Homo sapiens: one gene and its partners. The protein of the gene in region 2 purifies or fractionates together with the protein of the main gene of each other region. This does not show direct contact. Each region holds a gene or a part of one and is shown on either strand. Other genes may lie near its edges.

What was found.
Region 1: the proteins of SOSTDC1 (region 2) and ALCAM purify together in Homo sapiens (affinity purification with western blotting; one study listed by BioGRID). This does not show direct contact.
Region 3: the proteins of SOSTDC1 (region 2) and TACC1 purify together in Homo sapiens (affinity purification with mass spectrometry, with the first as the bait; one study listed by BioGRID). This does not show direct contact.

The regions. Positions count from the first base shown.
Region 1 is NC_000003.12:105,365,395-105,369,144, reverse strand, and holds the start of ALCAM (CD166 antigen isoform 1 precursor), read right to left. Parts: upstream 2,237-3,750; 5' UTR 1,737-2,236; coding exon 1,664-1,736; intron 1-1,663. UniProt on the Homo sapiens protein: Cell adhesion molecule that mediates both heterotypic cell-cell contacts via its interaction with CD6, as well as homotypic cell-cell contacts. Promotes T-cell activation and proliferation via its interactions with CD6.
Region 2 is NC_000007.14:16,463,518-16,467,267, reverse strand, and holds the start of SOSTDC1 (sclerostin domain-containing protein 1 precursor), read left to right. Parts: upstream 1-1,529; 5' UTR 1,530-1,599; coding exon 1,600-1,804; intron 1,805-3,750. UniProt on the Homo sapiens protein: May be involved in the onset of endometrial receptivity for implantation/sensitization for the decidual cell reaction Enhances Wnt signaling and inhibits TGF-beta signaling. Directly antagonizes activity of BMP2, BMP4, BMP6 and BMP7 in a dose-dependent manner.
Region 3 is NC_000008.11:38,828,665-38,832,314, reverse strand, and holds part of TACC1 (transforming acidic coiled-coil-containing protein 1), read right to left. Parts: intron 1,191-3,650; coding exon 1,138-1,190; intron 1-1,137. UniProt on the Homo sapiens protein: Involved in transcription regulation induced by nuclear receptors, including in T3 thyroid hormone and all-trans retinoic acid pathways. Might promote the nuclear localization of the receptors.

The DNA of each region.
Region 1 (3,750 bases), on a different chromosome or scaffold from region 2:
AAACCAACTGTGGGCGTGTGGACGTTTGCATGTTACAAACCGACATCACCCTTGTCCTCCCTTCTTGGCTCATTCCCTGGCTCCAAAGTGTCCTTTCCTCCATCGGACAGTGGAATCTCGAAAAAGTGAAATCCACACTGTGCCAGGCCCAAGGGGGTCTCGCCTTTCCACCTACCTCCCCAGCGTTGTTACACTAGGACACCTGCTTTAAATCCGGTTGAACTATGGTTTCACAGTCCCCGCCCCAGAGCCCGAGATTTGTCAGAGAACGCAGACGCCTTTTTTTTCCCTCAGCCTCAGAAACATCAGGTGAGCTCATTACCTCACCCAGAAATGTAACTTTAATAAAGAGATCTGGAGAGGGCACTCCTCCCGCCCACACACACAGCAACGGCAGCAGCAGCAGCAGCTCGCAAACACTTGTAATCTCTTCCTCAGGCTCTGGCCCCCAAACCCCTCTCCCCGCCAGTTCCTGGGAGAGATTCAGAGGCTTTCAAACCTCTTCTGTGACCTGAGCTTGCCGACAGCTGAAGGGATGTGCACGGATAAAAGGAAGTGAGATTTTTCTTTGATAAAAGCTAAAGAAAAAGCTAAGAACAAACAGGCCAAAATACCAGGAAGTAGGAGTTTAACTGGCAACTGTCTACGCAGGGATAGAAAAAAAAAACTTCAAAGAAAAAAAAATCCCCTAAATTTTCAGTTTAGGGGAGCAAAGGAACCTGCTGCTCTGTCAGGCAACTGTGAGCGCACGGAATACCCTGTTAGAACAACTTGTGTCAGCCGCCAGGCGGGCCTGAGGATACCAGGGCCAGGGGACGTCCCCGAGGGTGTGGAAAGGGATTTCCCGAGAGATATTTTAGTTGTTGGGAATTTTGCCTTTTCTCTCTCTCTCTCTCTCTCTCTCTCTCTCTCTCTCTCTCTTCCAAGACTCAGTACAGAACTGAGAACTGAGGCTCTATGAGCAGGTCCTGGAAATTCACAAACCTCTCACTGAGGTGTCTCCCAGGCCTACCTACTAATTCCTGTTCTGGCTGTGTTATCTGCCTGCGGTCACCCTTTCACTCACCACCCGCCCAGACAATGGACGGGGACCGCAGGGGGTAACGTTGAAACCACGATTTTAAGCTTTAGCAGGTTTCGCAAGGGGGGCGGGGGGAGGTGATTAAAGTCCTCTCCTTCTCTACCCCTCCCATCCCTTCCTCGGCTCACCAAGGGGAAGTTACTAGGGGATTTATCACGAAAAAGTGCCGGCAGTTATTTCATCCGAGAACTAAGCGAAAGAAAAACTGCTCGGGGCGCAGTGACGTGGACTTGGATACCCAGAGACAGGAGGAACTGTCAGAGGGCAAGAGTCCGCCGCCTAGCTGGGAGCCGCAGGGACAAGGGGAGAGCGTCAGGCGAATCCTGCCCACCCCGGAGCACCAAGTTCCTGGAGATTCACCCAGTTTCCCCAGCTTGATGCCCAAACTTGAGCTAACCAGCCAAGCCCAAACGTGCGGCACAGGTGACCGAGCCCGGGGACAGCTCTGTGCCAGGACAGCGGTCCCCTTACCTCCACCACGCGCCTGGGCGCACTGCCTCGGGGGTGCGAGGCTGGGACGGGGACCTAGGAAACTGCTCCAGGCCCACGTCTGTCTGGGGCTGCTCCCAGGCCCTTGCTCACCTGGCCTGAAGACGGTGGCGGAGATCAAGAGGCAGAAGAGCAGACGGCAGGAACTGGCCCCCTTGGATTCCATATTCCTCCTCCTTCTTGGTGGGCCACTGACGGAGTCCACGCCGCAGGAGGGGGCGTCGTCCCGGGCCCCGCGGTGCCCGCGCGCTGGCGGGTCCCGACGCAGGGGCAGCGTCTTCTCCCAGACACACCGTCCCCTGGGCTGTGGCGCTGCACCTTCGGTTCTCTGCCGCACGCAACTTTCCACCACGCAATGCCCCCAACTCCTCCTCCCTCCCGGTCAACACCAGCCCACGGGCCCTTCGGCTGCTCCTCCGGGGACAACGACCCTCTGTTTCCAGGAGACACTTGAGTAATTCGGAAAGGTGTAAGCGGTTCTTTTCGCTGGTATCTTCTTTTATTTTCCTTGTATTGGAATGATAATAATAATGGCAGTGGCAATGTGCATGAAACGCCAGGTGCTAAGAAGGACTCGCAGGAGGCGGCGACGGGGGGGCGGCGGGTCTCCTCAGGTGGCAGCGGTGGTAGCAGCGGCAGCGGCGGCAGCGGTCTCCGGGCTGCTCTGAGTAGAGGGACTGGAAGGCGTGTGTAAGCTGCCTCTTTCCTCCTCTCCCCGCCTCCTCCCTCCCTCCCGTCTCCTCCCCACTTCCCCGGACGCAGCGCAAAGCAGGTGGTTGAAGCGCGGATCCGCAGCCTAGAGGCGCTGCAGGACTGAGTCCGAGCCCTGAGCCCAGCTCCGGGATCAGGGAGAACCGCGTGCCCCGGTCCTGGAGCCCGGATGAGCGGTGCTTCACCGCGGCTCCGCCCCCAGGGCCAGGTCCGCCAATAAGAAGCAAGCACAGGAGCCGCGCGCGCCAGGGAGAGCCCTGGGACTAACACTTTCTGTGATGTTGCAGCGCCCCAGTGATAAGGCCTCTGGCTTCCAACTGCCCACCCACCCTCGCTGAGGTTTAAAAATCGACTGCCCTCTCCCTCCACCCATACGCCCATCCCACTGACTCATTCCTCAGAGATTTTTCTCCGCCGTGCTGCTGCAGCCTTCTGTCCTGTAAAGAGAATAGTGGGGCAGGGCGGTGGCGGTGGGGAGCGAACCTTGGGTCCAAGAGCGGGAGTGAAGGGAAAAGGAAAGGAAAGGGCAGGAGGAAGTGGCAAAGGTGGAAACTTGCTTCTTGGGAGTTAACAGGAATAGCTACTTGTTGGCAGGGGCAACCCCTGTACTGGACTGATTCCTCCTGTACTTTTCGAATCTCTCTCCTCCCCCTGCTCACCCCCACCACTCCCCTCACACCCGGCTGGCATAGACTTGGTTTTAAAGGAAGACTACGTGAGTCGACTGCCCGGTACCAACAGAAGATATTTGCTTTTCCCGGGGGAAATTAAATCCGGAATTTCTAAACCGTACTTCGTCATACGGATTTTCCCAATGTCTACAAAAGCCCTCTAGAGAGCGTGTCACTTTTTTACTTTGAGTTAAGCGGTGATTTTAAGTTATAGACAGAAAATCCTCAAATTATTTCAGATTAAAAGCCAAGTCCGTCTTGGTCCGTTCCCGAAAGCCAGGCACTCCAGCAGATGGACAGGCTTCTTAGGCAATTTCTAAAGATTGAACCACCTCCCAGGAGGAACATCGGGAAGCTGTGTTGCTTTCAAATCAGGCAGAGAGCATGAAGGAAGATTTTCCTCTAGAACACCGGGGTGGAGCTGTCGGAGCCCTAAGTGGCTCTAAATCAGGGATGCAGGATCACAACTCTCATCACCAAAGAATAATAAAATCTTGGTCCCTGAAGCACTTCGCTGGGGCATTAAATAGCCTTTCGTGCATCACAGGGTCACCCTTTTGTGAGACTGGTCTCCAGCAGAGGATGCCAACTAGTAATCGTTACATACTGCACTTTCATCAGAAAACTGCGAGTTACCAGCGAGATTGGAGACTCGCAACACACAGACACACACACACACACACACACTCACACACTGATTTTTAAAATTGTTTATCTTTTAGTGCTCTAAACTATTAAGCCCTATCTTCAGCTGTGATTTTTCTCAAAAGCCTGCTTGTCCTGTTCTTCCAGTTCTCC
Region 2 (3,750 bases):
AGATGATATAAAATCATTTCATCTAAGGATATTCCAGTATATACTTCTAATAGAGAAGCAGTCATTGTTTTAAAACAAAACTACGGTACCATTTCTGTCCTAAAAAAGAACAATAATTTCTTGGTATTATAATATTTTTCCTTTATACTTATTTTTACTTTCTTTTATAGTGAGATAGATGAATAGATAATTAGTGGTTAAATTGGGGGTGATTTTACCCTGTAGGGGTCATTTGGCAATGTTTGGAGTTATTTTTGTTACCAACTAGGGGGGTGCTACTGGCGTCTAGTCGTTAGAAGCCAGGGATGCTGATAAACACACAGGATGGTCCCCCAATAATAAAGAACTGTCTCTTCCAAAATGCCAGTAGCGCTGCTATGGAGAAATTCAGGTAGGCAGACATATAGGCAAATGGCAGTTACAAGGGACAAAAGCTTATACAGAAAAGAGATACAAAATTAGGTGATTTAGGTAACCACACAAAGGACAAAAATGGATTTATAATTGAAAAGATGATTCAGAATAGTTATTCCAATTGAGATGTCCCATGATGAAATAGAATTTTATGATTGTTTTAAAGGGATCATCAGTGGCCTATAATTAATTAATGGAACACGTGTTCTGGGTGCCGGTAAAGTAATTCAGAAAAATAGGTTTCTTACTTGGGCAGCAGAGTCAAAGGAAGTAATGAGCAAAATATTTAGTAAATACGAGTAGAATCTGTGTTCTGAAAAAATCTAGAAAAAATTATTTTGAATCCGCTAAAAAGTCTGTCACAAATGGCTTTATGTAAAACAATGCTATGGATATTAATGCTTGTGACACATTTTTAAGACAAAAATGAGTATTACTTACTTTAATGTAGACAGAACTATGCTCATTATTCTCCACACAAAACCCCTGGCAATAATTTACCTAGCAGCACAGTAGTTCTTGTAGATCAAAGCTGCATTATTTAAGCATGTCCAGGGGGCAGGTTTTAGCTCTGTGCCTTTTACTTTAAGGAAAAAAAAATATTGGTTTGCTTCTTGAGAGAAAGCAATGTTTAGCTAACTAGGTGCTTCATGCAAGTCCTGCAATATTTAAACTCACATGAATTCCTCCTGTTATCTGGGAAGAACTCCCTTTCTGACCCAAATACTCTAAAATCTGAGGAAAGTACAGAACAACTGTGGGAAAGCCAGTCTCTTCAAATGAACAGCGATGTATTTTCGTTTAAATTAAACCCGAATGTTAACTAGATTCAGGAAAGGAAATGGCAGAGGAGAGTCTGTCGTTGATATAGAATACGCCTGCCTGCGTCGGCTCACAGACAAGTGATGAAGTCCAACTCTGAAATTTCAGGCAATTTGTATACCAAGCTCCTCCTTTTCTGCAGTCTTCTTTTCCATTGGTAAAATTCTTTTGCAGGGTCATGTAGGGATCCCACCCCTTCTCTGTGTTTTCACTCTGAAGCTCTACACAACTTTACACCTGAATGAACGCCAAACCTCTATGGATATATAAAGGGAAGCTTGAGGAGGAATTTCACAGTTACAGTGCAGAAGCAGAAGCAAAAGAATTAACCAGCTCTTCAGTCAAGCAAATCCTCTACTCACCATGCTTCCTCCTGCCATTCATTTCTATCTCCTTCCCCTTGCATGCATCCTAATGAAAAGCTGTTTGGCTTTTAAAAATGATGCCACAGAAATCCTTTATTCACATGTGGTTAAACCTGTTCCAGCACACCCCAGCAGCAACAGCACGTTGAATCAAGCCAGAAATGGAGGCAGGCATTTCAGTAACACTGGACTGGATCGGAACAGTAAGTGTGTTTTACTTGTACAGTTTTTTTTTTTCTTTTCTGGTAGCATTAGCTCACATTCCTGTAGAATTGTTTTATTGGTAACTAACCTGAACCGTATATATGTTGTGAAACAATTTGGGAGTAATCTGCTGCATGTGCAGGTTGGCATTCTTCCCTAGGTAGTGATTTTAAAGTTAACCTAACTAAAACAGTGGTTTAATAGTGCAAGCACAGACTGAAGTTTTATCAAACATCCACAAAGAAAACATTTCCAGGAATTAAACTATTGTTTTGTCAAAATCATGCAAAATGACCATTTTAAAAAGTATTGTTTTAGATAGCTCAAGTTCCGGTTGTTTTGTCAATTTATTTCAGGGCATATGCAATTTTGGTAAAGTGTATAAACGTAACTAATATATATTATTAGTTACCATCCACAAATAAATATAGGGAATCACAAGGGAAAAAAGGAAGCTTCCAGGAGAAAAAATTTGTTTACATTGGATTTCTAAAATATGTCTAGTGAGATAGTCAAAAGTTTTGATGATGCTCAATGTAAAAGAGGGATAAACTAAAAATGTTGGAGAATCACATTTTTCTAAAATAATTCCTTGTTGTCCCATTCAAAATTTAGATAATTGTGTATTTCTGTGACAGACTGGGGACATTTTTGTAACTTAAGAGATGTAAAACAACAGCTTAGTTGACACACTAATTGACCACTGGTTAGGGGGATTCAAATTACCCCTAACTTTTGTTTCTATCTTTTCCTTTAGAAGAGGCCATATGCTAATAATCAGGTTTTAAGAGAGAGAGAGAGAGAGAGAGAAACACTGCGCAGGAAATCTTACACAAATCTTTTGCCTCTCCTTCTTCACTCCATTCAACTACGAAAAGTAGTTTTGACTTTTGAAAAGTCAAAGCAAATTTGACTGTTAATGTCTAAGAAAGCTAGGATGTTTTAACTTTCACGAAGCTGGTTGCTTTTAAGTACACAGGACATATCTGATTATTATTAGATTACTGAGCAATGTGGTGGGTATTCGTTGTCAATGAACTGTCACTGCAAAAATGCCAAATCTGTATATACACAGGAACAGAAAGCTTGACGAGACAAAATTATTTCTGGCTATTTCCAGGTGCATTCCTGAGGCAGCTGCAGGAAGGTGAGCTGGAGGCAGAATCAGGCACGCTGAGCACACTGTCCAACCAAACAATTTACGCTTTACATTTTAATCCCACAATTCTAGATTTCTATGCATGCATGTCTATATACATAAGTTTTTCCACAACTATCACGTTCCCCTTAAGCTATATCTCTTACCTCAGAAGTACTAGCATACAGAGATGAAGTGAAACTCCTGATTCAGTTCTACTTCGACGTATCTTTCAGTACTTTTTGTGGAACCACTTCAGTGTCCCTTATCATTTTTATTTGTAAAATGTCAGCAGCCTGTACTTTTAAACATCCTTTTTTTTTTTCCTGGTTGGCAAGCCTTGATTTCTTTTCAAGCTTGTTATAGGCAATTCTCCTCAAGTTTAGATAACAAAGCAAGGGTAAGGAAAACTTAAAATATTTAAAGATTAATTTTTGCTTTAATTACATAAGGCATGTAACAAGAAACAGCCAATTAGAGAACATACCTATCAAATCCAAATAACTAAAACAAAAAGTTTGCCATGACCAATATTCAGGAAATGAACACCGTGGTTCCTTTTGCAGTTGTAAATCAGACATGTTAGGCATTTTTCTGCCATAAAATTCATGGAAATGTAGCCAAGTTGTTATGGCAACCATACGTTCCTGATTTAGGGGCTTTTATATTCTTTGAGTCTTGAGTTGTAGTGGCATTTTACATTTCAAACATGTTACTGTTTGTATTTTTTAAAAGATAGTTTGGGAATTTATGTTTAAAACATAGTTATTAAGTTTGATATGCAAAATGTCAGATGTTGTACACATG
Region 3 (3,650 bases), on a different chromosome or scaffold from region 2:
GTTTCCTATCAACACCACACCAGTGTATTCTAACACAACAGTGTATTCTAGCACACTAGTGTATTCTAGCACTTTACAGCTTAAATCTTTCACGTTGTCATTTCATCTTATCCTTACAACCACTTTGATAAGGCAGATGGGTGCTACTCATTTTATGGATGAATCAGTTGGGAATTAGGAAGTTTAAAGTTTAAGAACTGAGTAAATGGGCTGGGCGCAGTGGCTCATGCCTGTAATCCCAGCACTTCAGGAGGCCAAGGCAGGTGGATCACCTGAGGTCAGGAGTTTGAGACCAGCTTGGCCAACATGGTGAAACCCCATCTCTACTAATAATACAAAAATTAGCTGGGCGTGGTGGCGCATGCCTGTAATCCCAGCTACTGAGGAGGCTGAGGGAGGAGAACTGCTTGAACCCAGTAGGTGGAGGTTGTAGTGAGCCGAGATTGCGTCACTGTACTCCAACCTGGGTGACAAGAGTGAAACTCTGTCTCAAAAAAAAAAAAAAGAACTGAGTAAACCAGCCAGGTGCAGGGGCTCATGCCTGTAATCCCAGCACTTTGGGAGGCGGAGGTGGGCAGATTGCTTGAGCCCAGGAGTTTGAGACCAGCCTAGGTAACATGGCAAGACCCCATTTCTGCAAAAAATACAAAAACTAGCTGGGTGCGGTGGCACGTGCCTCTAGTTCCAGCTACTTGGGAGGCTGTGGTAGAAGGATCACTTGAGCCCAGGAGGTGAAGGTTGCAGTTAGCCAAGATTGCACCACTGTACTCCAGCCTGGGGAACAGAGTGAGACTGTCTCAAATAATAATAATAATAACAACAATAATAATGATAATAATAAACCTTAGTTAACCCAAGACATCCAAAATATTATCATCTCAACATGTAGTTAATATAAAAAGTTGAGACATTTATGCTTCTTCTTTTTCTGAGTAGCTACAGTTCAAGTGCTCCACAGCTACCTGCGGCTAGGGTTACAATGCAGAGACTATGTGTTCCTCAAGTGAAGAAACTATCTCATTTACATTTTATCCTCATCACCTAACACTGACCAGAATTTAACAAATTCACATGGGCTTCAAAACAAATACTGAAAGAAACCTGAGTCCACCCGGCCCTCCACATTCAGGAACTTACAAGCACAGTGGACCCGTCTTCTTCCATCTTCTGGCACGTCTCCTTCTCTATGCCTAAGACAGAAAGTCATTTTTATAGTTATCCCAAGAAGTCGGTTCCTTTCCTCCCTAGTGAAAGGCTCTTGGAAACCCCAGTGCAGGCGAGAATGACTTATGAACACATGAAAAGCATTTTAAGATTTTATTTAAAAGGAGCGCTGGCATTTTGTTGAGTGCTGTTATAAGTCCATGACATTCAGAAGAGGAGCACATGGTTAGTCAGCCACAAACAGGTCGTCAGCCTTCAGGCTGAAAGAACAGCAAGGCTGCCCCCTTGTGTCCATTAAAAGTTTGGAAAAATGTGTCGTACTAACTGTGGCATTATTTCAGAAAGGGGACACTGTGTAACACTGAATGCTTTTTTTTAATCATCAAGTCGGAGTGAATTTAAATTCCAGCCCAGAAGGGTGGCCTTGATCTAATTAATGCAGCAGATAAGATAATAAGCTTTAAAATTCAAGGCAGCGAAACTAAACTCATTCTCCCCTCCACCCCTTCAAATGGGCTTCCTTGTCTCAGGTCTATCCTCTACTCTACTAGGGTAGAGGATGACATTTAAAATAACCAGAAGATGGCTGGGCACAGTGGCTCATGCCTGTAATCCCAGCACTTTGGGAGGCCAAGGTGGGTGGATCATCTGAGGTCAGGAGACCAGCCTAGCCAACATGGCGAAGCCTCATCTACTAAAAATACAAAAATTAGCTGGGCGTGGTGGCGCATGCCTATAATCTCAGCTACTTGGGAGGCTGAAGCAGGAGAATCGCTTGAACCCGGGAGCTGGAGGTTGCAGTGAGTTGAGATAGCGCCACCACACTCCAGCCTGGGCAACAAGAGCGAAACTCAGTCTCAAAAATAAGAAAAATAAAAAATAAAATAACCAGAAGATGCACTCATTAAAGTAAACATAAAAATACAGAAAAGCATACAAAAGTTTAAAGTTACAATCCTCCACATGGCAATCACTAACTACTATTGTTGTCAATAGCTAATTATTTAAAACACAAATGTGACCATCACTCCCTTATTCAAAAACCTTCAACCTCCCCCTCCCTACCTATAGGATCAAGCCCAGATTCCACGGTATGACCTTGTTTCCCACTTGGCCAGATACTTACAGAAAGCAACCAGGCCTTTTACCAACGTGGCAGCTTTCTTCCCATGGCTGTGTGAAAATCTCATTTCCTGGAGAACATCTAGTAAGTATCCATCAGGACCCAGCTTCAAGGGGACACTCACCAGGACACAGTCAGGATTCACCTAACAGGGCCTGTAGCCATTCCCACACCCAGGACCGCAGCCTCCACTTGCTTGTGATGCGGCTGATCAGTTACAATGTAACCACTTGTTTAAATATGTTCCCCTTGCTGTTTGCTAACTTTGAAGACAGCACTGTATGTACAGGGCCCCAGCTCTCTACATAAATTTTTATTGAAGGAATTTCCTCTAGTGAGGAAGAATATAATTCAATAAATGTTTACCATGTACTGTGTCAAAGGTGACTCAAAGATGAGTGGTAGTCTCTAACCTCAGTAAGTTTATAATATTACCTTCCTGTAATTAACACACTGCGCTAGGTACTGTGGAACAGGAAGGGGGAAAGGAAATGTGGGAGCAAAAGCATGCTGGAGAGACCTGAAGGGATGTGCAGATCTGTGTAAGAGGCAGCAAAGGAAGACACTTCAGATGGAAAAAAACCAAGGCAGGTGTTAAGAATACTCAGGATTAACCCCAAGAAACTGGGGGAATGGTGAACAATATCTTTGGGAAAGATGTCAGGGCAGAAGACAGTATTGGAAGAAATCAGGAACAATGCCTGGCATATTATTTTATAGATGAGAGACTGAGGCCTGGGATGAGAAGGAGGCCAGGGGGAATAAATTGCTCCAAGTCCTGACTTTCCATCTGCTTCCCTGGCTTAATGGCAGATCATGACTTTTAAAATTCTATACATAAAAGCCCATGAATAAAATTATGTTAAGAAGATCTGAGTTTTTAATAATGTTTAATGTAGTCAGGAACATGGTTCTAAACTTTTCATAAGTAAAGTTTAAGGCCAAGGATGTAACTGGGGTCCCAAGAAAGAGGGGCTTAGCTCTAGAATGATCTGATGAGTCCATCAATAAGAGGCTTCCACCCTGGTTAGCCCAGGTTCCTCATTGGCATGTTAAGAAAGATTTTACAGTGCACTGGTCAATCTCAACTTACCACATCTGTACCAGGAAAATTTACAGTAGCCTAGTATCATGAAAATAATCTCTTCATACTTTGGCATTGTGGCGAAAAGACCATGGAACCAGACTGCTTAGAGTCAAATGTAGTTCTACCATTTACTAATGATGAGGTTCAGAACACACTTCACCAAAATATGGTGCCTTCGCATTTGAGGACACAGCAGAAGCAGGGAGGTCTCTCGGCCCCTCTCCTGCCCCCTTTCCTGAAGCAGGCCATAAAGCAACCCCTCAGACCTTCCCCTGA